4 linked regions of the Homo sapiens genome follow. The protein of the gene in region 1 purifies or fractionates together with the protein of each later gene. This does not show direct contact. Each region holds a gene or a part of one and is shown on either strand. Other genes may lie near its edges.

The links.
Region 2: the proteins of BCL9L (region 1) and SH3PXD2B purify together in Homo sapiens (affinity purification with mass spectrometry; one large-scale study listed by BioGRID and IntAct). This does not show direct contact.
Region 3: the proteins of BCL9L (region 1) and ISL2 purify together in Homo sapiens (affinity purification with mass spectrometry, with the first as the bait; one large-scale study listed by BioGRID). This does not show direct contact.
Region 4: the proteins of BCL9L (region 1) and MTSS2 purify together in Homo sapiens (affinity purification with mass spectrometry; one large-scale study listed by BioGRID and IntAct). This does not show direct contact.

Annotation. Positions count from the first base shown.
Region 1 is NC_000011.10:118,899,590-118,906,848, reverse strand, and holds part of BCL9L (B-cell CLL/lymphoma 9-like protein), read left to right. Parts: intron 1-3,396; coding exon 3,397-3,613; intron 3,614-3,774; coding exon 3,775-3,859; intron 3,860-3,940; coding exon 3,941-6,230; intron 6,231-6,650; coding exon 6,651-6,932; intron 6,933-7,259. UniProt on the Homo sapiens protein: Transcriptional regulator that acts as an activator. Promotes beta-catenin transcriptional activity. Plays a role in tumorigenesis. Enhances the neoplastic transforming activity of CTNNB1.
Region 2 is NC_000005.10:172,442,934-172,450,192, forward strand, and holds part of SH3PXD2B (SH3 and PX domain-containing protein 2B), read right to left. Parts: intron 1-7,259. UniProt on the Homo sapiens protein: Adapter protein involved in invadopodia and podosome formation and extracellular matrix degradation. Binds matrix metalloproteinases (ADAMs), NADPH oxidases (NOXs) and phosphoinositides.
Region 3 is NC_000015.10:76,333,164-76,341,150, forward strand, and holds the start of ISL2 (insulin gene enhancer protein ISL-2), read left to right. Parts: upstream 1-3,609; 5' UTR 3,610-3,720; coding exon 3,721-3,778; intron 3,779-4,614; coding exon 4,615-4,804; intron 4,805-5,088; coding exon 5,089-5,351; intron 5,352-7,112; coding exon 7,113-7,396; intron 7,397-7,970; coding exon 7,971-7,987. UniProt on the Homo sapiens protein: Transcriptional factor that defines subclasses of motoneurons that segregate into columns in the spinal cord and select distinct axon pathways.
Region 4 is NC_000016.10:70,663,094-70,670,352, reverse strand, and holds part of MTSS2 (protein MTSS 2), read left to right. Parts: intron 1-1,306; coding exon of another isoform or gene 1,307-1,390; exon of another isoform or gene 1,391-3,074; intron 3,075-3,740; coding exon of another isoform or gene 3,741-3,839; exon of another isoform or gene 3,840-3,956; coding exon of another isoform or gene 3,957-4,013; intron 4,014-4,812; coding exon 4,813-4,887; intron 4,888-5,256; coding exon 5,257-5,433; intron 5,434-5,589; coding exon 5,590-5,755; intron 5,756-5,903; coding exon 5,904-6,676; 3' UTR 6,677-7,259. UniProt on the Homo sapiens protein: Involved in plasma membrane dynamics. Potentiated PDGF-mediated formation of membrane ruffles and lamellipodia in fibroblasts, acting via RAC1 activation. May function in actin bundling.

The sequences.
Region 1 (7,259 bases):
AGAGAGACATAAGAAACTAGCCAGAGAGGCTGGGTGTGGTGGCTGTCACCTGTAATCCCCAGAATTTGGGGAGCTGAAACCGGAGAATTGCTTGAGCCCAGGAGTTCAAGAACAGCCTGGCCAACATAGGGAGACCCCATCTCTAAAAAGAGAGAGAGAGAGAAAGAAAGGAAAGAAGTAAAGAAAGAAGAAAAAGAAACTAGCCAGAGACTATTAAATTGTGAACTCCTTGAAGGCAGGGACCATAGAAAGAAGAAAGAAAAGAGTACATTGGCTACTTTGCTACTCTGTTTTATTTAATCCTTACAACAGCCCTGTGAGGTCAGTGTTATCATGATGCCAATTACAGAGGAGGAGAGAGAGTCAGCAAATGTTATGGAGTGAGCAGACTATGTCTGTGACAGGGGTGTAGAGGGTCAAATACCAAACCTCTACAGCTAGCTGGAACCTCACAGACCATCCTGTATCAGTTCTCTCTCCCCCGTGGGACTAACCTGGTGGTCGCCAAGCCTCTGGCTGAACCCTTTGATGATAGAAGCCTTTACTGCTTCCCAGACCAGACACCTCCCCCCATAGCCACCACCTCCAGTTCACTTATGTCACATCAGACTGCACCATTGTAGAAACTTTGTGAGTTTTATTTATTTATTGTTTAGAGACAGGGTCTCTCTCTGACACCCAGGCTGGAGTGCAGTGGTGTGATCACAGCTCACTGCAACCTCAAACTCCTGAGCTCAAGTGATCCTCCCATCTCAGACTCCCAAGTAGCTGGGGCTCAGGCATGTATCACACCTGGCTAATTTTTGTAGAGACAGTCTTGCCATGTTGCCCAGGCTGATCTTGAACTCCTGGTCTCAAGCGATCCTCATGCCTTGGCCTCCCAAAGTGCTGGAATTACAGGAGTGAGCCACTGTGCCTGGCAAACATAGGGAAATACAAAGTAGAAATTGCTAACATCCCATACTCAAGGCGACTATTTTAGTCGTACTACCCTTAGATTCTTTTATTTATTTATTTATTTATTTATTTTTGAATCGGAGTTTCACTCTTGTTGCCCAGGCTGGAGTGCAATGGCACGAACTCGGCTTACTGCAACCTCTGCCTCCTGAGTTCAAGCGATTTTCCTGCCTCAGCCTCCCGAGTAGCTGGGATTACAGGCACCTGCCACCACGCCTGGCTAATTTTTGTATTTTTAGCAGAGGTGGAGTTTTAGCATGTTGGCCAGACCGGTCCTGAACTCCTGACCTCAGGTGATACACCTGCCTCAGCCCCCCAAAGTGCTGGGATTACAGGCGTGAGCCACCCGGCCTGATTCTTTTTTTTTTTTTTTTTTTTTGAGACAGAGTCTCACTCACTCTGTTGCCCAGGCTGGAGTGCAGTGGCACAATCTCGGCTCACTGCAACCTCCACCTCCTGGGTTCAAGTAATTCTCCTGCTTCAGCCTCCCAAGTAGCTGGGATTACAGGCATGCGTCACCACGCCTGGCTAATTTTTGTATTTTTAGTAGAGATGGAGTTTCACCATTATGGCCAGGCTGGTCTTGAACTCCTGCCCTCAAGTGATCCGCCCGCCTCGGCCTCCCAAAGTGTTAGGATTACAGGCATAAGCCACCGTGCCCGGCCTGCCCTTAGATTCTTGAAGAGTTCTTACTGGAGGGGCGATAGAACGTAGACATTGACAGGACTAGTTCTGCCATCAGGCTGCCTTCGTTTGCAACCCAGGTTATTTCTGTAAATTTGGGAAAGGGCCTCAGTTTCCTCATCTGTAAAAGTATTATTTATCTCATAGGGTTGGTATGAGGAGTAAATGAGGTTATACATGTAACATGTTAGCTTTTATCATTGTTATTGTACTAGAAAGTTCCTTGTTGGACTAAGCCCTGCCTGTCTCCCCATAGCTCGTATCCAAGAGCTACTCAGCAGCCTTCACACATTGAGGTCAGCTCTCAAGCTCCCCCGCAAATTTCTGGCTCTGCTCTTCTATGTAAAATTGGATAGATAGGGTCCAGAGCAGGGCCGTTTTGGGGTGGGTCCATCAGAGAAGAAGGTGCAGAAGAAACTTTTTCCAAAGAGGGCAGCCTGACACTGGGCCCATGGGAAGGTGGTCACTGCCCTGGCTGGATGGAGACAACTTCAGGCAATCTGTCTCCCATTAACTGAGAATGCTGGTACTTACTGTCTGCGGGCCAGGAACTGTGACTTGCTTTTCTTGGCATGCGAATGGGTCTACCCACTCACCTAGACCCGTTGTAGATTTTTTTCTACGCTAAGACTTACAGTCAAGTGTCTAACCATGGAACAAAACTTCCCTTGGTGCTGAGGGCAGCTGGTCTGTCTTGAGAGTGTTTCCAGTATGTCAGCTTTTTCTAACTGTTTTTTCTTTCTTATTTTTATTTATTTATTTATTTTTTTGAGACAGTCTCGCTCTGTCGCCCTGGCTAGAGTGCAATGGTGTGATCTCGGCTCACTGCAACTTCCACCTCCTAAGTTCAAGCAATTCTCATGTCTCAGCCTCCTGAGTAGCGGGATTACAGCCATGCGCCACCATGCCCAGTTAATTTTTGTATTTTTAGTAGAGACGGGGTTTCACCATGTTGGCCAGGCTGGTCTTGAACTCATGACCTCAGGTGATCCGCCCGCCTCTACCGCCCAAACTGCTGGGATTACAGGCGTGAGACACCGCTCCCGGCTCTCTGTTTTTCAAATGGATTTTTTTAGTCTGTGACATTGATTTAAACTTACTGTTAAAAAATATATTTCTTTGGCCTGCCCCCTGTGCAAGGAGGAGGTTAGTATTTTACATTTTATAGATGAAGAAACCGAGGCTTAGAGGGATGTCTGGTTCATAAAATCACAAAGTCAGTTAGTGGTGGGGCTAGAGTGAAAAACCATCCATCATTTGGATCATCAGCTTGTGTACCCTCTCTGCCTTCTCCCTAACTGGGTCACTAGACTGTGTGCACATACACTTACCCAGTGAGAGGGGCAGCAGCTCAGAGCGGAGCTTCAGAGTCCCGGCCCTGGGTTCAGTTCTGGCTCTGCACTAACTGGCTGTGTAACTGTGGGTGAGGAACTTATTTCCTCCTTTGTTAAGTGGAGTGTGTGACACGTTCCTCCCAGGGTGTGTTGATGAGATGAAATCACACCTGTTAAGTCCCCAGCAGAATGCCAGGCCCATGGGAGCCTGTGGAGAGGACACATTTTCTCTGTCCCTGCTCTCCACATGGTCACCACTCTTGCCATCGTGGAAACCAGCCTGGTGAGAACACCAGATACTGACATCAAATGTCCCTGTGGGCACGAGCTGTAAGGCTGTGAGCATCAGTGGGAGGGGGCATCAGCTGGTCCTTCTTGTATCTAGACCACTTAGCCCCTTTCCCTGTCCTCTCTCCTGCAGATTGTAATGTAGCAGACCCAGCCATGGCGGCCCCACAGCTGGGTCCCGGCCAAACCACCCAACTGCCCCTCAGCGAGAGCAGCGTGCCAGGCGCCCCGCACGGCCCTCCTCCTGGCCTTCGGCCTGATGCCCCTGGGGGCGGGGGCGGGGGCGGGGGCGTCCCCGGAAAGCCTCCCTCGCAGTTCGTATATGTCTTCACCACCCACCTGGCCAACACGTAAGTGCCTGGTGGGCAGGCCAAGTCTCTCTCTCTCTCTGCCCAGCACCTCTCAGCCTGGGGTTCCGAGGGAGCCCCGTGCAGGGGCAGGGTGGGGTGGGTGAGGGTGGGGCTCCCTCCTGCTCACCTCTCTGAGCTGTCGGTGCCCCCACTCTGTGCAGGGCTGCAGAGGCAGTGCTGCAGGGCCGGGCCGACTCCATCCTCGCCTACCACCAGCAGAACGTGCCCCGGGCCAAGCTTGACCAGGTGAGCGTGGCGCCTCTGTGAGCAGCAGGACTGGGTGGAACGTCCCCTTACCTGTCTCATGCTCTCTTTGTCCTTCTGCAGGCCCCTAAAGTGCCCCCCACCCCAGAACCGCTACCCCTGAGCACGCCGTCAGCAGGCACCCCGCAGTCCCAGCCACCTCCACTGCCGCCGCCGCCACCCCCGGCCCCTGGCAGTGCCCCGCCTGCTCTGCCCCCAGAGGGGCCTCCTGAGGACAGCAGTCAGGACCTGGCCCCCAACTCGGTGGGAGCTGCCAGCACAGGTGGTGGGACTGGGGGCACCCACCCTAACACCCCGACGGCTACCACCGCCAACAACCCTCTGCCTCCTGGAGGAGACCCCAGCAGTGCCCCCGGCCCTGCCCTGCTGGGGGAGGCAGCCGCCCCTGGAAATGGGCAGCGCAGCCTGGTGGGCTCAGAGGGCTTGTCCAAAGAGCAGCTGGAGCATCGGGAACGGTCCCTCCAGACGCTGCGAGACATTGAGCGACTGCTGCTCCGCAGCGGAGAGACTGAGCCCTTCCTCAAGGGGCCCCCAGGAGGAGCGGGTGAGGGGGGCCCACCAGCACAAGCCCCCCCTCCCCCCCAGCAGCCACCCACGGCCCCTCCCAGCGGGCTGAAGAAATATGAGGAACCCTTGCAGTCCATGATTTCACAGACACAGAGCCTAGGGGGCCCCCCGCTGGAGCATGAAGTGCCTGGGCACCCCCCGGGTGGGGACATGGGGCAGCAGATGAACATGATGATACAGAGGCTGGGCCAGGACAGCCTCACGCCTGAGCAGGTGGCCTGGCGCAAGCTGCAGGAGGAGTACTACGAAGAGAAACGGCGGAAAGAGGAACAGATTGGGCTGCATGGGAGCCGTCCTCTGCAGGACATGATGGGCATGGGGGGCATGATGGTGAGGGGGCCCCCGCCTCCTTACCACAGCAAGCCTGGGGATCAGTGGCCACCTGGAATGGGTGCGCAGCTGCGGGGGCCCATGGATGTTCAAGATCCCATGCAGCTCCGGGGCGGACCTCCCTTTCCTGGGCCCCGTTTCCCAGGCAACCAGATACAACGGGTACCTGGGTTTGGGGGCATGCAGAGTATGCCCATGGAGGTGCCCATGAATGCCATGCAGAGGCCCGTGAGACCAGGCATGGGCTGGACCGAAGACTTGCCCCCTATGGGGGGACCCAGCAATTTTGCCCAGAACACCATGCCCTACCCAGGTGGGCAGGGTGAGGCGGAGCGATTCATGACTCCCCGGGTCCGTGAGGAGCTGCTGCGGCACCAGCTGCTGGAGAAGCGGTCGATGGGCATGCAGCGCCCCCTGGGCATGGCAGGCAGTGGCATGGGACAGAGCATGGAGATGGAGCGGATGATGCAGGCGCACCGACAGATGGATCCTGCCATGTTTCCCGGGCAGATGGCTGGTGGTGAGGGCCTGGCGGGCACTCCCATGGGCATGGAGTTTGGTGGAGGCCGGGGCCTCCTGAGCCCTCCCATGGGGCAGTCTGGGCTGAGGGAGGTGGACCCACCCATGGGGCCAGGCAACCTCAACATGAACATGAATGTCAACATGAACATGAACATGAACCTGAACGTGCAGATGACCCCGCAGCAGCAGATGCTGATGTCGCAGAAGATGCGGGGCCCTGGGGACTTGATGGGGCCCCAGGGCCTCAGTCCTGAGGAGATGGCCCGGGTTCGGGCCCAGAACAGCAGTGGCGTGATGGGCGGCCCGCAGAAGATGCTGATGCCTTCACAGTTTCCCAACCAGGGCCAGCAGGGATTCTCTGGAGGCCAGGGACCCTACCAAGCCATGTCCCAGGACATGGGCAATACCCAAGACATGTTCAGCCCTGATCAGAGCTCAATGCCCATGAGCAACGTGGGCACCACCCGGCTCAGCCACATGCCTCTGCCCCCTGCGTCCAATCCTCCTGGGACCGTGCATTCAGCCCCAAACCGGGGGCTAGGCAGGCGGCCTTCGGACCTCACCATCAGTATTAATCAGATGGGCTCACCGGGCATGGGGCACTTGAAGTCGCCCACCCTTAGCCAGGTGCACTCACCCCTGGTCACCTCGCCCTCTGCCAACCTCAAGTCACCCCAGACTCCCTCACAGATGGTGCCCTTGCCTTCTGCCAACCCGCCAGGACCTCTCAAGTCGCCCCAGGTCCTCGGCTCCTCCCTCAGTGTCCGTTCACCCACTGGCTCGCCCAGCAGGCTCAAGTCTCCTTCCATGGCGGTGCCTTCTCCAGGCTGGGTTGCCTCACCTAAGACGGCCATGCCCAGCCCGGGGGTCTCCCAGAACAAGCAGCCGCCTCTCAACATGAACTCTTCCACCACCCTGAGCAACATGGAACAGGGTGAGTCAATTGCGCAGGCAGGCAGGCAGGCAGGCAGGCAGGCGCTGAGCAGTGTGTCCATGCTGGGGCTGGGCAGTGAGTGAGTAAGGGCCTGTGTACCACGGGCCCAGAGGTGGATGGCTCTGCTTATGGGGCAGATGATGACATTTGTGGGCTTTCTCAGGGGGTACCACGTGAGTCTCCCAGGCATTTTGAGTGATCGTACTTGGGGCCTGGGATCTTCCCCTTGCCTGGGGCCCTGAGGCTGCAGGAATTGCTTGAAGACTGGTGGGCTCTGGAGATAGTGGGGGCCTGTGGGTGTGTCTGAAGGACCAGGTGATTTGGGGAACTGACCGCTTCCTAAACCTCCCCATATCCACAGCCAAACTCATCTGCCCCTCCCCAGTCACCCCTGCTCTCTTTGTCTCCCCGTTTCTGTAGGTACCCTCCCGCCTAGCGGCCCCCGGAGCAGCTCCTCAGCACCTCCCGCCAACCCTCCCAGCGGCCTCATGAACCCCAGCCTACCATTCACTTCCTCCCCAGACCCCACACCTTCCCAGAACCCCCTGTCACTGATGATGACCCAGATGTCCAAGTACGCCATGCCCAGCTCCACCCCGCTCTACCACAATGCCATCAAGACCATCGCCACCTCAGACGACGAGCTGCTGCCCGACCGGCCCCTGCTGCCCCCCCCACCACCACCGCAGGGCTCCGGGCCAGGTGCGAGGACAGGCCAGGGCCCCAGGGAGGCCAGCTGGTGTGGGCACTGGGAGCGGGGAGCACAGCTGTGGTTGTGCTGGCTTTTTTGTGCCTCTGAAGGCCCTGGGTGTGGGGGTGGAGGCTCCGGGATGCTGTTCCCACTCGCTGGAGTCATTAGGGAAACCCAGCCCAGAGCACTCGAGTGGTCTTTCCAACACCTGGTGGTGTGTCTGGCGAACTGGGCCAGAACTTGGTCTCTTGGCTTCTAGCATCAATGCCTCCAGTCCCTTCCCTCCCAGCCAGGGGAAGCCAGTGGTGAAGACTTTGACCTCTGGCACCCCCTGGCTT
Region 2 (7,259 bases), on another chromosome or scaffold:
TTCCACCCAGAGGGGTCTTTCATCTTTTTTTGGAGCCATGAATCTCTTTGGCATCTGAGGAAACCCACGGACCCCTTCTCAGAATGATTTAAAATGAGTAAAACACATAGATCCCAAATGAAACTAATGATACTGAATTATAGTTATCAAAATGTTTCAAAAAACAAAATTATGACTATATGTACGTTTTTATTAAAACCACAAATAACAGAACCTCGTGGTGGGTCTAATGACACCGTAACTTGGAAATAGTAAGGAGTATAGATGCTCTCCAGGCATCCACGCAACGACTGTCAAGTAAGATGAAAATAAGGGAATCGCTATTTGTGACAAAGTCACATGTATTACTACTATCACCGCGAGTTGCTGCCTTCATTCATCACAGAAGGCAATGCTAAATTTCAGTCGGAGGTTAGTGAAAATTAAGATTTAATTCTTCCCCTTCTACGTTCAAGGGCCCTCTGAATTCCACCCATGTAAAGAACCCCACTGCTAGTCAGCTTTCCCAGCCCCTGAACACCCCTTTGCTTTTGAACCCAGCTGACAGTGCACCTCTCTGTCCCAGCAGGAACGGGTACTCCAGGCCCTGTCGCAGCCCTTATCCTATGGAGATGCATTCTGAACAGATGGTGACCTCTGTGAGGACAAGACTGTGCTTGGTCATCTTAGCCTCTCTCTGGCTCTGGGCCAGACCTGGCCCAGGGCAGACAATAAACCCACATCTGTGGAACTGACTGGAAGCCAACAGTGGCCTGAAGCCACAGGCTGCTGATTCACACCTTGGCTGAGGAGGAGGAAATGGTGACGCCAACGCGTGGGTTCTAGCTTTCTTTGCCAGCACAGCGGGCGGGGGGCCATGCAATTCTGCTTAATTAAACAAAACAGAAAATACCATGCTTATGTGCTTGAAGGCAACTTTTCCATTCAGGACGGAGGTCGGGGCTGGGAAAGTGACTATCCCCTTATTACCAGTCAGTGATAGGCAGGGGAGCCAAAAGTGATCCTGGCAAACTGCTTCACCTTTCTAAGCCTCAGTTTCCACATTTGTGAAATGGGCTAATAACAGCATCCATGTAGCAGACATGTATTGTTTTTGCCTGTCCAAGCTCCATGCCCCCTTCTCCCAGCAACAGCGCCCTGAATCTCCTTCCACAACTATCCCTCTCACTACCAGTGATTTCAGTGGGACCGTCGATCTTAATATCCCACTCACACCTGGCCCATAGGGTCAGGTAATCCGGCTGGGCCAGTCAGAGTCTCTCCTGGATCTGGACTCTTGAGTGGCTAAAAGGTCTGAAAATGGATGGATCAGCTGCCTGCCTGGTGATGTCCTAATACCTACTGGAGTTCCCACTCCCTGGATGGCTCCAGCTGCCCACGTTCTTTCCAAGACTGGGTGCTGAGCTTTCCCCCTGATTCTGACAGCCCCACCTTTCCAATACATTCTGTTTGGCTTAAGTTAGCCAGGTCTGTTTCTGTCACATGCAATCCCAGAATCCTGACTAATACTCCTTATCTCACAGAGCTGCTATGTGGATTCAAAGACATAAAGCATGAAAAGCCTTGAGCACATAGTAAGCGCTTAGACAAATGATAGCTCTTCTATACTGTTAAGAATAAAAAATTACTATTGAATCTTGAGAACAAAACAAATTTGGAGTTATTTAATTGCCCTGGAATTTCAGGATTACTACTGGCTTGCAGAGTCCCCTCTAATAACCTTCCCTCTCTCCCTCCATCTCCACTGTCTGCACATGGCTCATTTGGACAGGGGCTCCTGGGTCTGTCTGTGCTCTGCTCCCTGGATTCACCCATGAAGGGCTCTTCTACCCACCCCTCAAGTTGGGGAAGTGCTTCTGAGCACCAGCTCCTCCCGCTACTCCAGTGACTGCCTCTGGCCCCGAGCCCTGGCCTCAGCCTTCGTGTGCTGTACTGGAGCTATGGCCTTCCTGGGGGGGGACCATGCCTTCTCTCCTGTGGTTCTCAGGTCAGCCAGGAGCCCCCAGGTCCTTCTGGCCCCTCTACCCACAGAGCTTCATCTCCATTATTCAAACCTCTTCTGCTTTTTCAAACACGCCATGTGCCAGGGTTTCCATTTCTTTGCCCTCCTGTTCTCTCTACCTGTAACTCCTTCACCCTTGCCCACTTGGCAGCATCCCTCCCATGCTTTGTGACTGGCCTCAGGTCACCTCTGCAGTGCTGCCTTCCCCAGGACCAGGTCCCCCAGAAGCCCAGGGCACCTGTCTGCCTGTCAGGACACTGACCTTCTTGAGGTCTCAATCCCTGCTTTGTCTATCCACATGTCATCTCTGTCGCCCAGGCTGGAGTGCAGTGGCGCAAACATGGCTCACTGCAGCCTCCATCTCCTGGGCTCAAGCGATCTTCCTGCCTCAGCCTCTCAAGTAGCTGGGATTGCAGGCGAGAATCATCACACCCAGCTAATTTTGTGGATTTTTAGTAGAGATGAGGTCTCACTATGTTCCCCAGGCTGGTATTGAACTCCTGGGCTCAAGCGATCTTCTCGCCTCAGCCTCCCAAGATGCTGGGATTACAGGCGTGAACTCCCATGCCCAGCCCTTATAATGAAGGCTTCTTGGTGGTGGTTGCTGTTTTTCCAAAGTGGTAGCTCTGGCAGCTTTGCCAGATAAAGAATAGGATGACCAGTAAAATCTGAATTTCGGATAAACAACAAATAATTGTTTCTCATAAATATGTCCCAAATATTGCATGTTTATTTGAAACCGAAATTGAACTGGGCATTCTGCATTTTCATTTGCTAACTCTGGCCACCCTCAGCCCTGGGAAAGCCTGAGACAGGGCTGCAGAAGCAGGCAGGTGAGCTCTGCCCACAGCCCCTCCTCCCTTTACCACCTGAAGAAGACCCTGGGCTGAGAGTCATGCCCGCCTGCAGGTGTGCATCTGGGCCAGCAAATAAGGGAGGAGAAAGTCCTGCAGTTTGGAGAATGGGGCAGAGGCCGATGGCTTGTGGCGGAGCTCAGGTCCGCAGGCTTCTGCAGAGGCAGAGTCCGGAGGAGGCAGCCACACGAGCCCTGCCCCCGGCCCACTGCTGGAGGCACTGAGCCTCCTGAGTCTGTCATGTCAGCTGGTTCCCGTGTCACGTCAGTGGGCAAAGGATGCCAGCTCCACCCAGGGGCCAGCTGACCCCCCCGACAAGGGCTCTAGGATAGGGACCACAGAGCCTCGGCTTCTGGGCATTACCCAGGCCAGCAGCACCCCTCCTCAGGCATTCTGCATAAAAGCTCATTGGATCTCCCCAACAAAGCCCCCTACTGCCCAGAGAAGGCTCAGGGCCAACAGTGAGTGAATGACAGAACCAAATTAGAACCCAGGCCCTGCCTGCAGAAGCCACATGGCCTTCTCAATAAACCTGTCTTCTCTTTTGGCCACTTGTGGGTGCTCACAACTCCCTGGTTGAACCCACCAGACTAACAGGCTGCTCGGGGGGCAGTGGCTCCCTTTCCTGCAGCTGCAGGGACCCACAGCTGGCTTCATCGCCAAGAGGAAGGGGAAAACTGAGTCATGCAAAGCAAGACTGCTCCCCTGACATTCCCGCTACCACAGCTCTTTCTCCGAGGAAAAAAGGATGCACAATTTGCAAGCAGGACGTGAGTGTCACGGCGGGAACGGCACAGTCCCTCTAGCCTTCCTTGTTTGGCAGTGTGATAACTGGGCTGCTTGCCGACTTGCCTGCACCTCCGGTGGGAGGCAAGAGGATGCATGAAACGCCCAGGGAAGTGGGCTGTAGGGCACACCTCTAACCTGGATGACGTTTCTGGTGCCCTGTGACCTTAGGGTACAGACCATGCTGGATCTGCAGAACTTGAGCCTACAATTCTTCCCAACCCTATTTGGCTGCAAGCACGATGGGGAAGGGCCTGGACTTGCTGAGCAAGGAACATTTTAACTAGGAAAGCATCTGCCCAGACCTTCCCTCGTGGTATTTTAAACTCATCGCTTTCTAGTTCTCTAGCTCACGGACTGGAAAGCCACATCCAGAGACCTCCCTCTGTGGCAGGAGTGGGGAAAGAGCCTCTGAAGGCTGGTGCCTGCCTCAGGAGGACAGGAGAATCCTTTGGGACAGGATGGGGCAGCAGGATGTGGGGATCTGGCTGGAGCTGCCCCAGCTTGACGCAGCTTCTTTTTAAAAATGAGCATTTGCTGTTTTTTTATTTTTACTAAAAACAAGAATATGTGTTCATTGCAGAACATTCGGAAAAGAGAAAAGCACAGAAAAGCACAGACAAGCAGAAAAAAAAAAGGAATGACATTTTATCAGCTGTATTTCTGAGCTTACACAGACTCATATTTTCATCCTTCGTTTGTAATCAGGTGAAAATCAGCCTGAGCATGCTATTTTGCAAACCAGCTTTAGCTATTTAATATGCTTGTGATAGAAGATGGAACACAGTTTTACCATCTTGATGGTATTCTAGCTCATGGATATAGCACGTTTTATCTTTGCATCTCTACTGATGCACTTTTAAGTAGTTACCAACCTTTTATGATCATAAATGATACTAGGTTTGTACACTCCTAATATAGTTTACCATTATCAAACCTCAATTACATGCTAGGCCCCTTTAACTCTCACATTAGCCCTATGAAATTGGAACTATTTTTATCCTCATTTTATAGATGAGGAAACTGAGGCACAGAGGCTTGTCTGAGGTCACACAGTTGGTAGGTGGCAGAGCAGGGATTTGAACCCAAGCTGTCTGATGTACTTTCTCAGCCCACTAGAGGCGCAGAATGGCATTGATTCAAAGTCTGAACTAAAGTGACATTTAAATAATTTGAAGATATGACTGCTCCACCTCCTTTGACCCTGAGACACCTGCAGCAGCACAGAGTGCACCAGAGCAGGCTGGGACTTCTCCCATTGAGGATGACCGGCCAGGTGAGCTGAGGGGCTGGTGCATTGCACCTATGGGGTGGGGTGGGGGATGGGATGGGGGAGCATGGTTGACCAGGTCCCTAGCAGAGCATCCCAGATCAACACAGAAATGCCCTTTGCTTGCCACTCACTTGGCATACATAGCTTGCCTGTGTGACAAGCACCTACTTTTTCCCAATCCAAAGAAAGCAATAGTCGTTAAAGAAAAACCTACCCAAGGGGCCTTAAGAGGGCCCTAACTCTTGTGACACAGACACAGTAGAGGACAAGAACTCTCCTGTGCAATAGGTAGGAATGGCTCTGCCTTGCTCCCGGGGGCCTATCCCAGCAGCAGCATGGGCCCAGCCTGGGGCAGGTATCCCCCAGAATGCCTCTTGAATGAAAAGACCACGAAAACTGCATAGTGTGCCTTCTGGGCAGCAGGCCGGAAAGCGGTGCAGAAATTTAGATCACGACTATTATTATCATCAATAGTACTTTTCATGACTACCATTTATTGAGTACCTTTATTTTATTTTTGCCGACAGAGTCTCCCTTTGTCACCCAGGCTGGAGTGAAGTGGCGCAATCTCGGCTCACTGCAACCTCCACCTCCCAGGTTCAAGTGATTTATTGAGTGCCTTTTATACCCATGAGGCTGAGCATTGTGTGCTAGGTACTATGACTATTCCCATTTTACAGATCCTCACATAGTGCAAGGTCACCCCGCTCAGGAGCGCTTGAAGAGAATTCAAAGCCAGGTCTTTTCATCATGAAGGTAACGGTGGGTTGGAAAGACATGTGCTAGCAGTTTTATTCTTCCCAGCAGCAGGGCTGGAGCACAGATTCCGTGCATACATCACCAAAAGCCTGCACAATCGTCCCAGAAGGAAGTCACTGCACCTATTTTACAAATGTAAAAACTAAGGGGGGGCATTCGGCCAGTTGTCCAAGGCCATGAAGAACTTGAACCCAGATGTTTACCTCTAACACCCGAGTTCTTTCCACTCAACTTTGCTGCCCTGCCCTCTGTGTTCCCACAAAACAGGTGCCAGGGATAGGAGGAGAGGGAGGAAACTGGGGGCTGGAGAAGATAATGAAGCTAATTTGGGCAGCAGATCCATGGTTTGTTCTAGACCATTGGGCTCACCTGCTGGAGGCCCCTTAAGGGACTGAGAATGCCAGTAATGCCTACTAAGGGCGCAATCTACTCTTCCAAACTCAGCTGCTCAGCACAGTGACCCCTAGGCTTCTGGAGCCTGGCAAATCAAAGAGGGAGGTTTCAGGGCTGGCAGTACAGAGCCTGCAGAGCCATCACTCCAGGGGCACCATCTACCCAGAGCTTCCTGGGGTGAGAATGACTAAGGGCTGGCGGTGGCTTGCACTTCTTCAGTCGGGGCTGAATAAATGGTGAGATCAGAGAAGGGCCTGGGATGGCCCCAGTATCTCATATAAGGGGAAACCGGGGTCCAGAAGCCTAAGTGACCCATCCAAGGTCAGTCAGCTCCGTGGTGGAATCACAGGATCCCCCTATGTTTCTCCCAGACACAAGGGCATGTAGCCCAATTCCCACGCAGCCACTCCTTGCTGTGTGACCTCAGGCACATGCCTCCACCTCTCTGAATCTGCAGACTCCTCCAGGGGAAAACAAAAAACTAATGTAATTACCTGAAGGATTAGTATCCCAAATGTATAAATAAATCCCGCCAATCAATAAAAGACAAATAACCCAATATATCGAAAAACAGGCAAAGGACAAAAACTGGTAATTCACGGAAGAGGAAACTCAGATAGCCGATAAAGGTATGAAAAGCTGCTCAACCTCACTGGTGTGAACAAGCACCACTTTTGCACCTATTGGATTGGCAAAGACTGAAAAGTCTGATGATACGGAGTGTTAGCAAGAACAGAGAGCAAAGGGAACCCTGAGGATGTAAGTGCAAAGTTGAAAACACACAAACCCCAAGACCGTGGGACCCTGTGCAAGGAGGCAGCTGTAAGAAAGTCAACTGCTGGAAACATCCTAACAGTTCCCGGCACGAGCTTGAAAAAACAGGGGCATGTTCATCAATGCCATAGTAAGCGACAGTTAAAACGAACTGGAGCTAGCTGGATCGACATAGATCTCAAAAGTGCTTATTTATAGTTTTAAAACATTCACGACAATACAAGATTTTAGGGAATGTTAAAAAGGGAAAAACATTAAAAGGTCCATGGGCTGTGGTGGGAAGGGGATTGATGGCAAATGGGCGTGGGGGATCTTTCTGGGGATGATGGAAATGTTATAATACTGCATTGTGGTGACGGTTGCATAGCTCTGCAAATTTACTTTAAAAATAAGTGAATTGCACACTTACAATGGGTGA
Region 3 (7,987 bases), on another chromosome or scaffold:
GACATTGTGCATGGGGCTGTGCCTTTGTAAGTGATGTGGTAGAGGAGGTTTTGGGGAGAAAATAATCAGGGAGACTTCTCTGTGCTTCTGAACTCTCCCCAGTACAGGCTAGTTTTATGGGATAAAGCATAGCTATGGAGCTCAAGCTGCCATTCCTGATAAGGAGAAAGTGATCTAAGACCCAGGATAGGAGGCACCCAGGTCTCCTGCATGCCAGCCTGGGATGTGGAGAGTGTGTGGCCCCTCCATACCTGAGAAGGGAGCAGCCAGGAGGCAGAGAACCAGGGTAGGGCCACATCAATGGTGCCTGTGGCCGTGCCCAGCAGGTGCAGGTGTTTTCTTCTCCCATGTCAGTGCTGGTCTCTCAGGGGTGGCTGTGACCAGAAGTCACACATGGAGTGATTTTGAAATGGATCCCTGGTTTTACAGCTCCAGAGATGTGAAATGGGTGAATGATGGAGCTACACTCATGTGGCTCTTCAATGGCACAGTGAAAAAAGCAAGCAAGATGGAGCCAGATAGACCTGGGTTCAATGCCAGCAATGATTTAACCTGTGACCTGAGGCAGTAACTTCCCCTCTCTGAGCCTCAGTTTCCTCGAGGATTGGAGGGGCCCAATACTACTCACCACATGGCATTACTTTTAAGACCTAATAGGCTAACAACAAGGACTTTGCACATGGTGGCCCTGAACAAATATTTGTTTTGACCTGGCTTCCTAGCATCCCAGGAGGGGTGACCCTCTCCAATCCCCACCTCCCTAGTGAAGTTTCAAAGGACAGGTTTTTCTGGACGGGAAGGAAGAGTTTCTCTGGGCAGGAGACGGTTAAAAGCTGGGACTACGATTCCAGCCTGGGGCTGCCCCCTCCTGGCCAGCTGTCTGAACCCCTGAATTATAGATGTGCTTGCTCCTGGCCTGGCGAGCAAGAGCTAGTAGGTGCTGGGAGCCAGGCCTAGTCCAGGGTCACCTAAGGGTAGGGCCATTGGGCCAGACGCACCTCCTCACTCCACATGCAGACACACACACCGAGTCCCCTCCCAGTTCTGACTGTGCACCCACATTCACAGATATAACCTGTACACAAAGTCTATGCACAGACCACACATCTCCAAACCCCATCTACACAGCAGACACACACACAGCAAGCACACATCGAAATCACAAAGAAATCATCAGATGACACATACTGAGACATACTTAGACCTCCCCTCCCCATCCAGACACACGCAGGCAGGGTGGGCAGAGGCTCCCAACATAAAGATACAGCCACAGTCATAACTGTCATAATTAACACATATGGAGCACTTACTCTGTGCTAGGTATTGCTCTAAGCCCTTTCCAGAGAACAGTTTATTTAATTATTATGTAATAGAGATAGCTACAATTATTATACCCCCATTTTACAGATGAGGAAACTGAGGGAAGGAGAATTAAAATAAGATGCCTGAGGTCACACAGGTGTCCTGGCACAGCCTCAGGCACAGATACCCACCCCCTCGCTCTTGTCCCCCATTTACATAAACACATTCATTCAAACGCAGCATCCCCCAACCCCTGACCTGCCCGCACACACTCAGGGTGAGCGCTCTTTGGGGGACTGTTGACTAAAGACGCAAGAAATGGCCTATTGGCCAACGGGTGGTAAACTGTAACAAGAGCCGGTCCGGTGGCCCGGCGCGGTGGCTCACGCCTGTAATCCCAGCACTGTGGGAAGCCGAGGTGGGCGGATCACGAGGTCAGGAGTTCGAGACCAGCCTGACAAACATGGTGAAACCCGGTTTCTACTAAAAATACAAAAATTAGCGGGGCGTGGTGGCGCTCGCCTGCAATCTCAGCTACTCAGGAGGCTGAGGCAGGAGAATCGCTTGAACCCGGGAGGCGGAGGTTGCAGTGAGCCGAGATCGCACCATTACACTCCAGCCTGGGCGGCACAGCAAGAGTCTATCTCAAAAAAAAAAAAAAAAAAAAAAAAAAAAAAGCCGGACCGGTGAGAAGACTAGACCTCCTAAAGGTGGAGGCGGAGCTCAAAAGCCGGACGCTACTGGACGAGGCTTAAAGCGCTCGCCCCAGCGCGGGGCCGGTGAGGAACGTTCACCGTGGACCATGGTCGAATAATGTTAGCGTGCACTCGGGGCCTCGCCCTAGCCTTCTGCAAAGCCTCGGCCTGCGCCCTCGGCTGCATCCGTTTCGACGCCAACCAACCTCATGCTCTTAGTAGAACGGCAGTAGCGACCGCGCCCTCAGGCCCACAAGCCCGAAGGTCTGGGCAGGGTCTGGAATGGCGGTGGAGACACTTTATCCGCAGGCGTTTCACCTCGCGCCCCACCCAGGCGCACACCAAGTTCTTGGTACTCCTTTTAATGGGAAAACAAGAACAGACACCATGGTTGGATAAATGTTATTTATAATTCATGGGCCGGTCTTTGAACCCTTTCAAACAAAACCCACAGCGATTTCTTTGAAAGAATGCCTGGACTGTGCTCAGAGCTCTCAGATTTTCTCAGGACCAACGAGCCGCCGCCTCGCAGATACCACTGTAAATTACCCAGCGCCTTACGTTCGTTTCTGATTATTTGCATTGCAGTGGGTTTGTTAATGAAGGACAAGAGTTTAGAAAAATCTTTTATTTTGGAAGTTGGACACGCAATCGACCCCAGCAGTGTTCCTAAAAGGAGCTATGCCATTTGGATGGGGGAAAAATGAGGGGGCGGGGAAGTCCATGTTACATTTAAAACAACAACAGCAACAAATTAAAAGCAAAACAAAACAACAAAAAAAAGGAAGTGGAGCAGGAGGAGGAGGTGGTGGTGGAGGAGAGGGAGGAGGGGCAGCAGCAGCGGCAGCAGCAGCAAGGATGGAGTCAGGACCCGTCCCAGTCCCGGGTGAGCGCTTTTGGATCTGGGTTCTGGCTCAACCCACGTAATGCCCCAATCTAAAGTTTTCTACGTGTGTGTGGATAGGAAAGTCTAAATAGAGTTTATCAGAACCCAGGTGGTCATTCTCTACACTCTCTCTAGCTTGGACCCGAAGAACAAAGGCACATGAGAGGAGAAAGGTGACCAGCTGGACGATGACGGTCACGTCCAAACGGATCCCCCTTGTCCTCGGCTCTCTCGTCCTGAGAGTGGGTTTAATTTTTTTTTTTTTAATTTATATAAGAAGGGAGCTCTTAAAGGAGAGCCATCTCCACCCTCAGGTATCCATCACCCAGCTCCAGCGCGCCTGGGAAAACCGCCCCGAAAGTCCAAGAGGAAGCTCAGAGTTGTAACGGCCGCGGAGCCAGCTCGGCGGTGACGCAAGGTCCAGTCCAGATTGCCAGGCCCGGGGCATGAGAGAGGATCCTTGTAGGTTTCGGAGGTGGGGGGGCTGCACTCCATTGTTCACTCCGGGCCAATCAGGGTTGGCCCACTTCCTCCCAGCCAATCTCCCTTCACCCCCAGCCTCCAACCCAACCCACCCCGCCCATCAGCCCCTGGATCCCCATCACCTCCCCCGCATCCCCGGCAGTTCTGGGGAAGCTTCGTGACGCCACAGGTCCCGCCCCCAGCTCCGGCCCGGGGCTAGTGCGTGTTGACGTCATGCTGCGTGCGGGCCGGTGCGGAATCGCTCCTTCAACTCCGCGGGGCAGTAGGAGTTAGTTAGCAAAGAGCCGAGGCCGGGCGCGCGACCCTCGTCCTTCTGCCCCTGGCCGCACACTTTGCGCACATCTCTTTTTCTGCATGGTGGATATTATTTTTCATTATCCTTTTCTGGGTGCTATGGGTGATCATTCCAAGAGTAAGTATTTCTGTGTGTGTGTGGGGTGGGGTGTGTGTGTATGCTTAATATGCAAAATTTCTAATGCAGAAAAATGTTTAGTGGATTCTACAAGTGGCTTCTATTTGTCAGAATAGTTTAGGAGAGGAAAAACGAATGCATGTCTCCTGCAGGACTGCTTATCTTTGGGAATCCTGTTGTTTTATTTTATAAGTAAACACTATTTCTCAAGCCGGCTAGGATGACTTCGGGCTGCGAAATCTGCTTCTGTTTTGCGCAAAGGCAATTAGGTTTGATTTAGGGATGTGGGTTTTTTTTTTTTTGGTTGTTGTTTGTTTGCCTTTCGGTTTTTCAAAGCTAGGAAGCTTTCTTTCGCTTGCTCTGGGATATTTAAACTAAGAAATGTCTGAGAGGATGAGCGGGGACTGCCGAAAGACGATGTGTCTGTGTTGGGATAGGAGGCAGCCGCTGTGAGTGGGAGTGTGTGAGCGGAAATGCCAGGACAGCACCGTTAGGTGTTGATATCCAGGCGTCCGCAGTGCCTGTGTATTTACTCTCTTCTTAGTTTCGTGTTTGCGTTTAGTTTCAAGACACGTCGACAAAACGACTGTCATTAATGAATGTAATAACGAAATATTTGGGGTGGGGGACAGAAGAAACCTTCAGCAATCCACAAGATACTGGTTTTTCGTTTCCAATGCCCTGGACCTTTAGAGAGCTCATCATCTTTCCTTATGGTCGCAAGTCTTGAAAGAAAGAGCAAGAGAGCGAGCGGGTTGGGTTGGGGCTGGAGTAGCCGAGGCCGGCCTGGGTCCGGGCAGTCAGGCCTGACGCGGCCCCGCGCCCTTCCCCGGCAGAGAAGCCCGGGACGGCCATGTGCGTGGGCTGCGGGAGTCAGATCCACGACCAGTTTATCCTGCGGGTGTCGCCCGACCTCGAGTGGCACGCGGCCTGCCTCAAGTGTGCCGAGTGCAGCCAGTACCTGGACGAGACGTGCACGTGCTTCGTGAGAGACGGGAAGACCTACTGCAAGCGGGACTATGTCAGGTGAGGCCGGCGGGAACGCGGGCTGGGCCACCGCGCGCAGGGGCCGGGGCCGGGACTGGGGATGGCGGCCTGCCCGCGCGCCCCGGCCCTGCCCAGGGAGAAGGCCATCCGCATCCCGCACGGGTGCCGCAGCGCTCCCCCGGGCCCGGGAATGCCCGCAGGCGGGTCACCGCAGTCTCCTGGTGGCCACAAAGTGTCCTGGGCGCGCGCCGGAGCCGTAGCAGCCAGGGAGATGAGGGCGGCCGCAGGCCCAGCGCTGACACCGCCGCACCTTGGGCCCGCAGGCTGTTCGGCATCAAGTGCGCCAAGTGCCAGGTGGGCTTCAGCAGCAGCGACCTGGTGATGAGGGCGCGGGACAGCGTGTACCACATCGAGTGCTTCCGCTGCTCCGTGTGCAGCCGCCAGCTGCTGCCTGGGGACGAGTTCTCGCTGCGGGAGCACGAGCTGCTCTGCCGCGCCGACCACGGCCTCCTGCTCGAGCGCGCCGCGGCCGGCAGCCCGCGCAGCCCCGGCCCGCTTCCCGGCGCCCGCGGCCTGCATCTGCCCGGTAAGCGCGCCGGGGCCTGTGCCGGGGTGAGCGGGGTGTATGTGCGTGCGTGTGTGTAGGGGTACGCTTGTGTCCCTAACGAGAAGTTGTCAGTTGTGTGTGGTTCCGTCTGCCGGGATAGTGTTTTTCTGTATCAGTGCGGAACTGTGTGCTGGGAACAAGGCTGTGTGTATTCTCGTGTGCTCGGGAGAAACTGCGTGTGTATGAGTGTGTGAGCACGGAGAATTGTGCAGAATCGTGTTCTCCATGACCAGGAACATGCAGGGCACAGTGCTAGGAGCAGAAGAGTGGATGACAACAGGGAATCTTAAGTGGTGTCCGTCTTGGGGCTTGTATTAGGAATTTCTTGGAGGAATATGTGTTATTGTCAGAGGGTAAGGTTTGCCCAGGGGTATGTGTGTAAGTAACACAGCTCCAAACTGGGAGCTGGGCAGGAGCTTGGTCAGCCAGGAGCCAAGAACCCAACAAAGAGGGGTTTTTGCCATCTTGTTTTGAGGCCCAGTTTGATGAACAATTTAGCCAGGTTCTTCTGGGGGAGGGGGAGTATCAATGCATAGTGGACTGTCACTGGAATATTCTGGGTCCTAATCAGCAGCTGCCCAGAGATGGGGTCTGAGTGTATAATGGGCAGGTACGGCTGAACAGAAACAGAGGTGCCTCCACCCCAGGCAAGGCAGTTTCCCCCAGGTAGCCATAGGCCTGCAGCACAGATCCGTAGACCAGGCTGGGCCTCTGGGTGCTGTGTGGCCTTGCCCCGCTCCTCCCCTCTCTGGATCTTCACTTCCTCCCTATAGAAAGAGGAAACTGGGCTGGATGGGCTATTTGTAAATATTTGTCCAGACCTAGAAATTCGTAGAGGGGAACATAAACCGAAATGGTGCAGTACAGATCCACGGTATATATGGGTCGGGATCAAATGGAGATGTGAAATGGGAGCAAGCGGGTATTCAGTGCACCCCCATCTGGGATCTCGGAGAGGCTCCCCTTTGTTTGTTTCGGGCTTCAGGGTGCAGGCTCTGGAATCAGTCACTGTTTCCCCGGGATGGAGAGAACCTGGGGCCAAGCGAGGAGAGTGCCAGCGGCTGCTCAGCACCTTGGTCGGTGGGAGGCCACTGGGCTGGGGAACCTGGAGCCTTGAGGAAGGAGACAGGGGCCGAAGCCCAAGGGCGGGCAGGAAGGAACTGTTGCAAGCCCTGGAGGCCCGTCCATAACCGTGGATGAGTCTTCTACACATGTGGCCTGGCCCTGTCCAAATGGGCTCTGAAGGAGGGGAAGGGCCCTCGTAGGCCCCCGGCATATTCGCACCTCCCACCCAGTCCCCTGGGCAGCGCCTCGCCCTGGGTCCACGTCGGTCCCTTTCCCTCTCCAGAGTCCTGGGCAAGCCTCTTTCCTCTTCCTCTGAAACTCCGACTTCTTCCGGAGGGCTTCGCTCGTTCCGAGGGTCCTGCGACTGGAGGAGGCACATCCCTGAGCAGCCACTCCCTCCCCGCAGCGGCCTGTCGCCGAGCTCCCGCGCCCTGCTTGAGCTCGGGAGAGATCGCTGCGGGGCAGTCCGGCCCGGGAGCGAGAGAAAGAACGAAAATGCACAGCTCTCTCCGAGTAAGGCGAACAGATGGAGAGGAAGACGAACAATTAAACGAAACAAACAGAATAAAACAGAAACGAAATCGGGCCCCGGGGGGCTGGGCCACCCGGAGGTTGGGCTCGGGGCGGGTGGGTGGCGGCCCCTCGCTAACCTCTGGCCTCACCCTGTCCTGGCAGACGCTGGGTCGGGCCGGCAGCCCGCGTTGCGCCCGCACGTGCACAAGCAGACGGAGAAGACGACCCGCGTGCGGACTGTGCTGAACGAGAAGCAGCTGCACACTCTGCGGACCTGCTACGCCGCCAACCCGCGGCCCGACGCTCTCATGAAGGAGCAGCTGGTGGAGATGACCGGCCTGAGCCCGCGGGTCATCCGCGTCTGGTTCCAGAACAAGCGCTGCAAGGACAAGAAGAAATCCATTCTCATGAAGCAGCTGCAGCAGCAGCAGCACAGCGACAAGACGGTGAGCAGCCGCTGGGCCGGAGGCTCGAGTCGGGTGGGGGCTGCGCTTCCGCCGCGGTATCTGCGTGCCCTTTTCTGGGCGAGCCCTGGGAGATCCAGGGAGAACTGGGCGCTCCAGATGGTGTATGTCTGTACCTTCACAGCAAGGCTTCCCTTGGATTTGAGGCTTCCTATTTTGTCTGGGATCGGGGTTTCTCCTTGTCCCAGTGGCAGCCCCGCGTTGCGGGTTCCGGGCGCTGCGCGGAGCCCAAGGCTGCATGGCAGTGTGCAGCGCCCGCCAGTCGGGCTGGTGGGTTGTGCACTCCGTCGGCAGCTGCAGAAAGGTGGGAGTGCAGGTCTTGCCTTTCCTCACCGGGCGGTTGGCTTCCAGCACCGAGGCTGACCTATCGTGGCAAGTTTGCGGCCCCCGCAGATCCCCAGTGGAGAAAGAGGGCTCTTCCGATGCGATCGAGTGTGCGCCTCCCCGCAAAGCAATGCAGACCCTAAATCACTCAAGGCCTGGAGCTCCAGTCTCAAAGGTGGCAGAAAAGGCCAGACCTAACTCGAGCACCTACTGCCTTCTGCTTGCCCCGCAGAGCCTTCAGGGACTGAC
Region 4 (7,259 bases), on another chromosome or scaffold:
AAGCCAAGTGCTCATACCAATTTACCCTCCTGTTAGCAAGATTAGGACAGTGTTTTGTTTTGTGTCGTTTTGTTTTGTTTTTGAGACAGAGTCTCACTCTGTTGCCCAGGCTGGAGTGCAGTGGTGCAATTTCAGCTCACTGCAACCTCCATCCTTGGGATTCGAGTGATTGTCCTGCCTCAGACTCCCGAGTAGCTGGGATTACAGGCGCATGCCACCACACCTGGCTAATTTTTGTATTTTTAGTAGAGATGGGGTTTTGCCATGTTGGCCAGGCAGGTCTCAAACTCCTGACCTCAGGCAGTCCACCCCCCTCAGCCTCCCAAAGTACTGGGATTACAGGCATGAGCCACCACACCTGGCCAAGATTATGACAGTTCATTGCTGTTCCACATCCTCACCAGCGCTTGGCATTTTATATTGATTTCATTTTAGCCATTCTAGTGGGTGCAGAGTAATAGTAGTTCCCTGTATATTTTGTTTGCATTTCTCTAATGCTAATGAGATTGAACACCTTTTCATACTTTTTTTTTTATGAGACAGAGTCTCACTCTGTTGCCCAGGCTGGAGTGCAGTGGCATGATCTCAGCTCACTGCAACCTCCGCCTCCCGGGCTCAGGCAATTCTCCTGCCTCAGCCTCCCGAGTAGCTGGGATTACAGGCGTGTGCCACCACACCTGGGCTAATTTTTGTATTTTTAGTAGAGACGGGGTTTCACCATGTTGGCCAGGCTGGTCTTGAACTCATGACCTCAGGTAATCCGCCCGCCTTGGCCTCCCAAAGTGCTGGGATTACAGGCATGAGCCACCATGCCCAGCTTTCATACTTTTTTATAAGAGATAGGGTCTTGCTATGTTGCCCAGGCTGGCCTCATACTCTTGGGCTCAAGCAATCCTCCTACCTCAGCCTCCTGAATAGCTGAGACTACAGATGTGTGCCATTGAACCCAGCTACCTTTTCATACCTTTAAAGACCGTTAGAATATTCCCTTTCATGAAGGACCTTTTTAAATCGTTTGCCCATTTTTCTACTGGATTATCTGTCTTCTTCTTACCAATTTATAGAACTTTTTAGTATTGCAGATAAAGTTCCTCATCGGATATCTTCTCTCCTTCTATTGGGTACCTTTTTATTGTCTTAATGGGGGTCTTTTAATGACCAGAAGTTCTTAGTTTTAAAATAGTCCAGTTTATCCATTTTTAAATTGTTAGTGCTATTTGTGTCCTGCTTGAGAGATTTTTGCCTACTGCAAGGTCACAAAGATGTTTTCCTCTAAAAGCCTTTTGGTTTTGCCCTTTTGTTTTAGATCTGCAGCTCATCTGGAATTGAGTGTGTGGTGTGTGTGTGGTGTGAGGTAGGGGTCCTTTTTTTCATATGGATATCCAATTGACCCAGAACAGTGTATTGAAAAAAAAAATCTGTCTTAGTCAATTTGGACTGCCGTAACAAAATACCATAACCTGGGTGGCTTAGACTACAGAAATGTAGCGCTCACAGTTCTGGAGGCTGGAAGGCCAGGATCAAGACACCAGCAGATTCGGTGTCTGGTGAGGACCCACTTTGTGGTTCATAGATGTCACCTTCTTGCTGTGTCCTCAGTGGTGGAAGGGGCAAACTAGCTCCCTTAAACCTCTTTTTATAAGATCCCTAAAACCTTTAATGAGGGCTCCACCCTAATGATCTAATCACCTCTCAATACCTTATCTTGGGGGTTAAGATTTGAACAGAGGAATTTGGGGGAGACATAGACATTTGGAGCATAGCATCTTCTTTTCCTCAGTGCACAGCAGTGCTGCCTTCATCATCAGTCAGGTGTCTGTAGGTGTGTGGCTATTTCTGGACTTGGCACTCTGTCCTACTTGTTGATTTCTCTGCCTTATACCAATGCCACACCATCTTAATTATTGTAACCATCTTAATTATTTATAAAAAGTCTTTTTTTTTTTTGATACAGTCTCACTCTGTCCCCCAGGCTGGAGTGCAGAGGTACAGTATTGGCTCACTGCAACCTCTGTCCCCAGGCTTAAGCAATTCTCATGCCTCAGCCTCCTGAGTAGCTGGGATTACATGTGCACCACCACAGCCAGCTAATTTTTTGTATTTTTTGTATTGGGGTTTTGTCATGTTGGCCAGGCTGGTCTCAAACTCCTACTCTCAAGCAATCCACCCACCTCAGCCTCCCAAATTGCTGGGATTATAGGCATTAGCCACTGCACCCAGCCAGACTTTATAGAAAATCTTGATATCTGGTCATGGAAGTCCCCTAGCTTGGTTATTTTTTTTTGGTACCGCTTTGTCTATTTTCGGCCCTTTCCATTTCCATGTAACTTTTAGGATCAGCTTGTCAGTTCCTACCAAAAGGAAAAAAAAAAAAAACTCCTGGGATTTGAATGGAATTGCAGATATCCCTCTGTTTGTTTAGGCTTTACTGCCTCTCAGTAATGTTTTGTAGAGGTTTTTGGTTTTTTGGTTTTTTTTCTGAGGCAGAGTCTCACTCTGTCACCCAGGCTGGAGTGCAGTGGCGCGATCTCAGCTCATTGCAACCTCAGCCTCCTGGGTTCAAGCTATTCTCGTGCCTCAGCCTCCCGAGTAGCTGGAATTATAGACATGTACCACCACGCCGGGCTAATTTTTGTATTTTTAGTAGAGACAGTGTTTCACCATGTTGGCCAGGCTGGTCTCAAACTTGTGGCCTCATGTGATCCTCCCGTCTTGGCCTCCCAAAGTGCTGGGAGTATAGGTGTGAGCCACCATGCCCAGCTTGTTCTGTAGTTTTTGTGTAAAGATCTTGCATATCTGTCATTGGAATTTTTTCCCTAGGTATTTAGTGTTTATTGATGTTATCGTAAATTACACTGATGTTTTAGGGTGGTTTTGTTTTTTTGTTTTGTGTTGTTTTCCTGTTAGCTGCTGGTATTTAGAAATGTGATTGATCTTTTTCGGATTTTGTTCTAATAATCTTGTTAAAGGGTTAACCCCTTACTAATTCTAATAATTTGTAGATTCTTTCTTAATATTCTACATATACTATTATGTTACTTGTAAATAGTGATTTTTTTTTTTTTTTTTTTTTTGAGACAGAGTCTTGCTCTGTCACGCACACTGGAGTTCAGGAGTTCAGTGGTGTGATCACAGCTCACTGCAGCCTTGAATTCCTAGGCTCAAGATATCCTCCTGCCTCAGCTTCCTGTGTAGCTGGGACCACAGGCATGTGCCACCACACCTGGCTAACTTTAATTTTTTGTAGAGTCAGGGGTCTCACTATGTTAGGCTGGTCTTGAACTCCTGGGCTCAAGTGATCCTTATGCATCAGCCTCCCAAAGTGCTGGGATTACAGGTGTGAGCCACCACACTTGGCCTTCTTTCTTTTCTTTCCAATCCATTTGTTTTTTATTTCTTTTCCTTGCTTTATTGCACTGGCTAAGATTTCCAGTGCTGAATAGGAGTGATGACAGTGGGCATCCTTGTCTTTCTCCCAACCTCAGAGGGAAAAGTATCAATGCATTTGTAGATATTCTTTATCAGATTAGCTTCCTTTCTAGCAGCTTGTGTCTTTGTATTGTTTTTCATGAGCAAGTGTTGAACTTTTTCACTGAGTTTTCCAAATACTTTTTCCATTGAGTTTTTTTACTTTAACCGTCATATTGCCAAAAGTCTGCATTTGTTATTTCCTCCAAATCCTCACAGGTGGTGCCTGGTTTCCTTTTATTTTGGTGATCTTGGTTCATTCGAATCTGCAGGAAATCTGGGGATCTAAATCCAGAATGATTCAGAGAGCTGGAGGAAGGGGGCTGCCCTGGCTTAACTTGGCTCATTCCCAGGCCAACACCTCACCGTGATCCACGTCCCCACTGCTGTGCTGAAGCTGGCGTCTGCCCCAGGGAACCCTGCCGGTCACACATGCTCAGGATTTCATGGGCCTGTGTCTACCCTGCTTTTTTCTTTATTCTTTGTAGTTGTTTAGGAGTGGGGGGCCTCGCAGAACACCTAGTCCAGCCCACTGCCCAGAGCAGGTGTGTCCCTTTCATACTTCAGTCCACTTTAAAACAGCCTTCCCCCACCCCCTTCTATGGTAGCAGTTCTCCTCGGGGTCTCCATGGACACCCTGTGCCCCAAGCCGATGGCCCCACCCAGCAGCATCAGCACAGCTGCCCCCCTTCTCCGCAGAGCAGGCTCTCCTTTACGGGACTCTCCTCTTCCCTCCCACCTGATGCGCATCAGCAGCCACGGGCCTGGCCCTTGAATCTTGTCTAACTGCACTCGCTGCCTGGTGGCCTCATCCCACCCCAAGACCACTGCACTGATGGCTCCAACCCCAACTTCTCCCTGCACTCAGCTTATGAATACGACGGCCCTCATTGCATCCATGCAGAGACCTCAGAGGCAGCTCAGCTCAGTGCTCAGCGTGGCACTCGGGGCTTCACACTTCCCCCGTGTCCTGTCTGAGAAAACTGTGACACCATCAACCCAACTGCTCAGACCAAACACCCAGCTGCCGCCCTTAGTATCTCTTTTTCCCCTCGGTGGCCATATCCAGGCCGTCAGCAGTGAGTCCTGTGGTCAGTCTTCAAAATGCGCAGGGCTGGGCTGTCAGGTGGGTCAGCGTTCACCGTGTGCACTCTGGGCTGCTGTGTGCTGCTGCAGACACTCAGCGGCCGTGGCCCTGGGGTAGGGGGGGTGGGTGCTGGGCAAGGCGCTGAATTGAACCGCCCCCCTGCATGCCAGCTCTGTGACCAAAACTGTTCTCTCCTCTCCTCCTTGCTGCCTGCCGGCCCCTCTGTCTGCAACCGCCTGCTGGCCTCTGCATGGCAGAAGTCCTCCAGCTCTGCATCTTCCGAGGCCTCGGAAACCTGCCAGTCCGTTAGCGAGTGCAGCTCCCCCACCTCGGTCAGTGCTCCCAGCCCGGCCCCAGGACAGTCACCAGCTGCCCCTCCCATCCATGCCCTCCCCACCTGGTGCCATTACTGCACAAAGGGCCTGGGTTCAGCCAGGGGTGCGTGCACACAGCACCTGTCCCCAAGAGACAAGCCACCTGGCCATTTCCTACAGTCACTGCCCACACAGCCACATCTTACCCCTGGGCCTGGTGGGACTGAGGGGCCACAGTCACACTCCATGCTCTGCCCTTGGCTGTGATTGCGAACCAGAGACCCCCTGATAGCCCTGGACACCCTGAGCCTCAGCCACAGTGACGGGCCCCCGGGCCATAGGTGGTAGGGCCAGTGGTCCCCCTGACCTGCCACACCCTCCCTGCAGGACTGGTCCAAGGTCGGCTCCCATGAGCAGCCCTCAGGCGCCACTCTGCAGCGGAGGAAGGACCGAGTGGAGCTCCTGCGAGACACAGAGCCAGGCCCTGCCAGTGGGGGCACCCTGGGCCCCAGCGGGGAAGAGGCACCGCGACCCCGGATGTCCCCTGCCACCATCGCAGCCAAGGTAGGCTGGCCAGGGCCCCCCTTCACGCCCAGGTCAGTCCCAGGAGGCCCAGCCAGTGGCCTCAGGGCCGGCTCCAACCACCTGGCAGGGCTGCCTGGAATTTGGGCAGAGGGGATTGGGGGCGCAAGGCTTCAGCCTGCACTTTCCCACCCTCAGCACGGTGAGGAGGTGTCCCCCGCCGCCAGTGACCTGGCCATGGTGCTGACGCGGGGCCTGAGCCTGGAGCACCAGAAGAGCAGCCGGGACTCGCTGCAGTACTCCAGCGGCTACAGCACGCAGACCACCACGCCCTCCTGCTCTGAGGACACCATCCCCTCCCAAGGCAGGCCCGCGGGGCTGGGGTGGGACCAGGGACAGCTGGGACTTAGCCATCCAGGAGGGCCCCGTCCTTCCCCCTCTGTGCTCACCCTGGTGGGCTGGGGGCAAGGGGCCACCTGGGCCCTGGGCCTCACTGTGTCCCGTGCCCCCAGGCTCCGACTACGACTGCTACTCCGTGAATGGGGATGCGGACAGCGAGGGCCCGCCCGAGTTTGACAAGTCATCCACCATCCCGCGCAACAGCAACATCGCCCAGAACTACCGCCGCCTGATCCAGACCAAGCGCCCAGCCTCCACTGCTGGGCTGCCCACCGCGGGGCTGCCCACGGCCACTGGCCTGCCCTCGGGCGCACCCCCCGGCGTGGCCACCATCCGCCGCACACCCTCCACCAAGCCCACCGTGCGCCGCGCCCTGTCCAGCGCTGGCCCCATCCCCATCCGGCCGCCCATCGTCCCTGTGAAGACGCCCACGGTGCCTGACTCCCCCGGCTACATGGGGCCCACACGGGCGGGCAGTGAGGAGTGCGTCTTCTATACCGACGAGACCGCCTCACCCCTGGCACCGGACCTCGCCAAGGCCTCCCCAAAGAGGCTCAGCCTGCCCAACACAGCCTGGGGCAGCCCATCCCCAGAGGCAGCCGGGTACCCCGGGGCAGGGGCCGAGGACGAGCAGCAGCAGCTGGCGGCCAACCGGCACAGCCTGGTGGAGAAGCTGGGGGAGCTGGTGGCGGGTGCCCACGCACTGGGTGAGGGCCAGTTCCCCTTCCCCACTGCTCTGTCGGCCACCCCCACGGAGGAGACGCCCACCCCACCCCCAGCCGCCACCAGCGACCCCCCGGCCGAAGACATGCTGGTGGCCATCCGGCGTGGGGTCCGGCTCCGCAGGACCGTCACCAACGACAGGTCGGCGCCCCGCATCTTATGATGGCGCCACCCTCCCCATCCTCTCAGGCCCCAGTGCGAGCAGGTGGCCTGGTCTGTGAGCCGCAGGCACTCAGAGCAAAGGCCCAGCCAGGAGAGAGGACAGAGCCAGGGCAGAGGCCATGCCACTTTATGGAAAGACACCTCACTTGGATTCCAGCATTTAAACAGGAAGTGACTTCTTAGCAAGCCTGGCCAGGACGGAGCCTGCAGGCCTGGGCCTGGTTCGGGGTCTGTTTTATGCTCTTCGGTCCCTCCTCTTCCTCCTCTGGGGCCCTGCCTCTTCCCTACCCATAAGCACCAGAGCCAGGGCCGCTGCCCATGACAGAGGGGCCAGGCTGGCCTCCCTTTCACCATCCCGGCCTCTCCCAGGGCTGGTCCTGCCTCAGCTCCTCCTGGAATGCTGGCCCCCCTCTCCCCTGCCTGAGCCCCCTCCTCCCCTCTTGCCTTCTCTCTGCCTCTCCCAGGCCCCTCTCCCTCCAGGAGGCGGGGCGGCTGTGGAGGGGCCAGGTGCACGCTGGGCTGGATGTCTGCTGGGGGCTGGGGGCCAGGGCGGCAGGTTGGAGTTGGGCGGCCAGGCCCCCCGT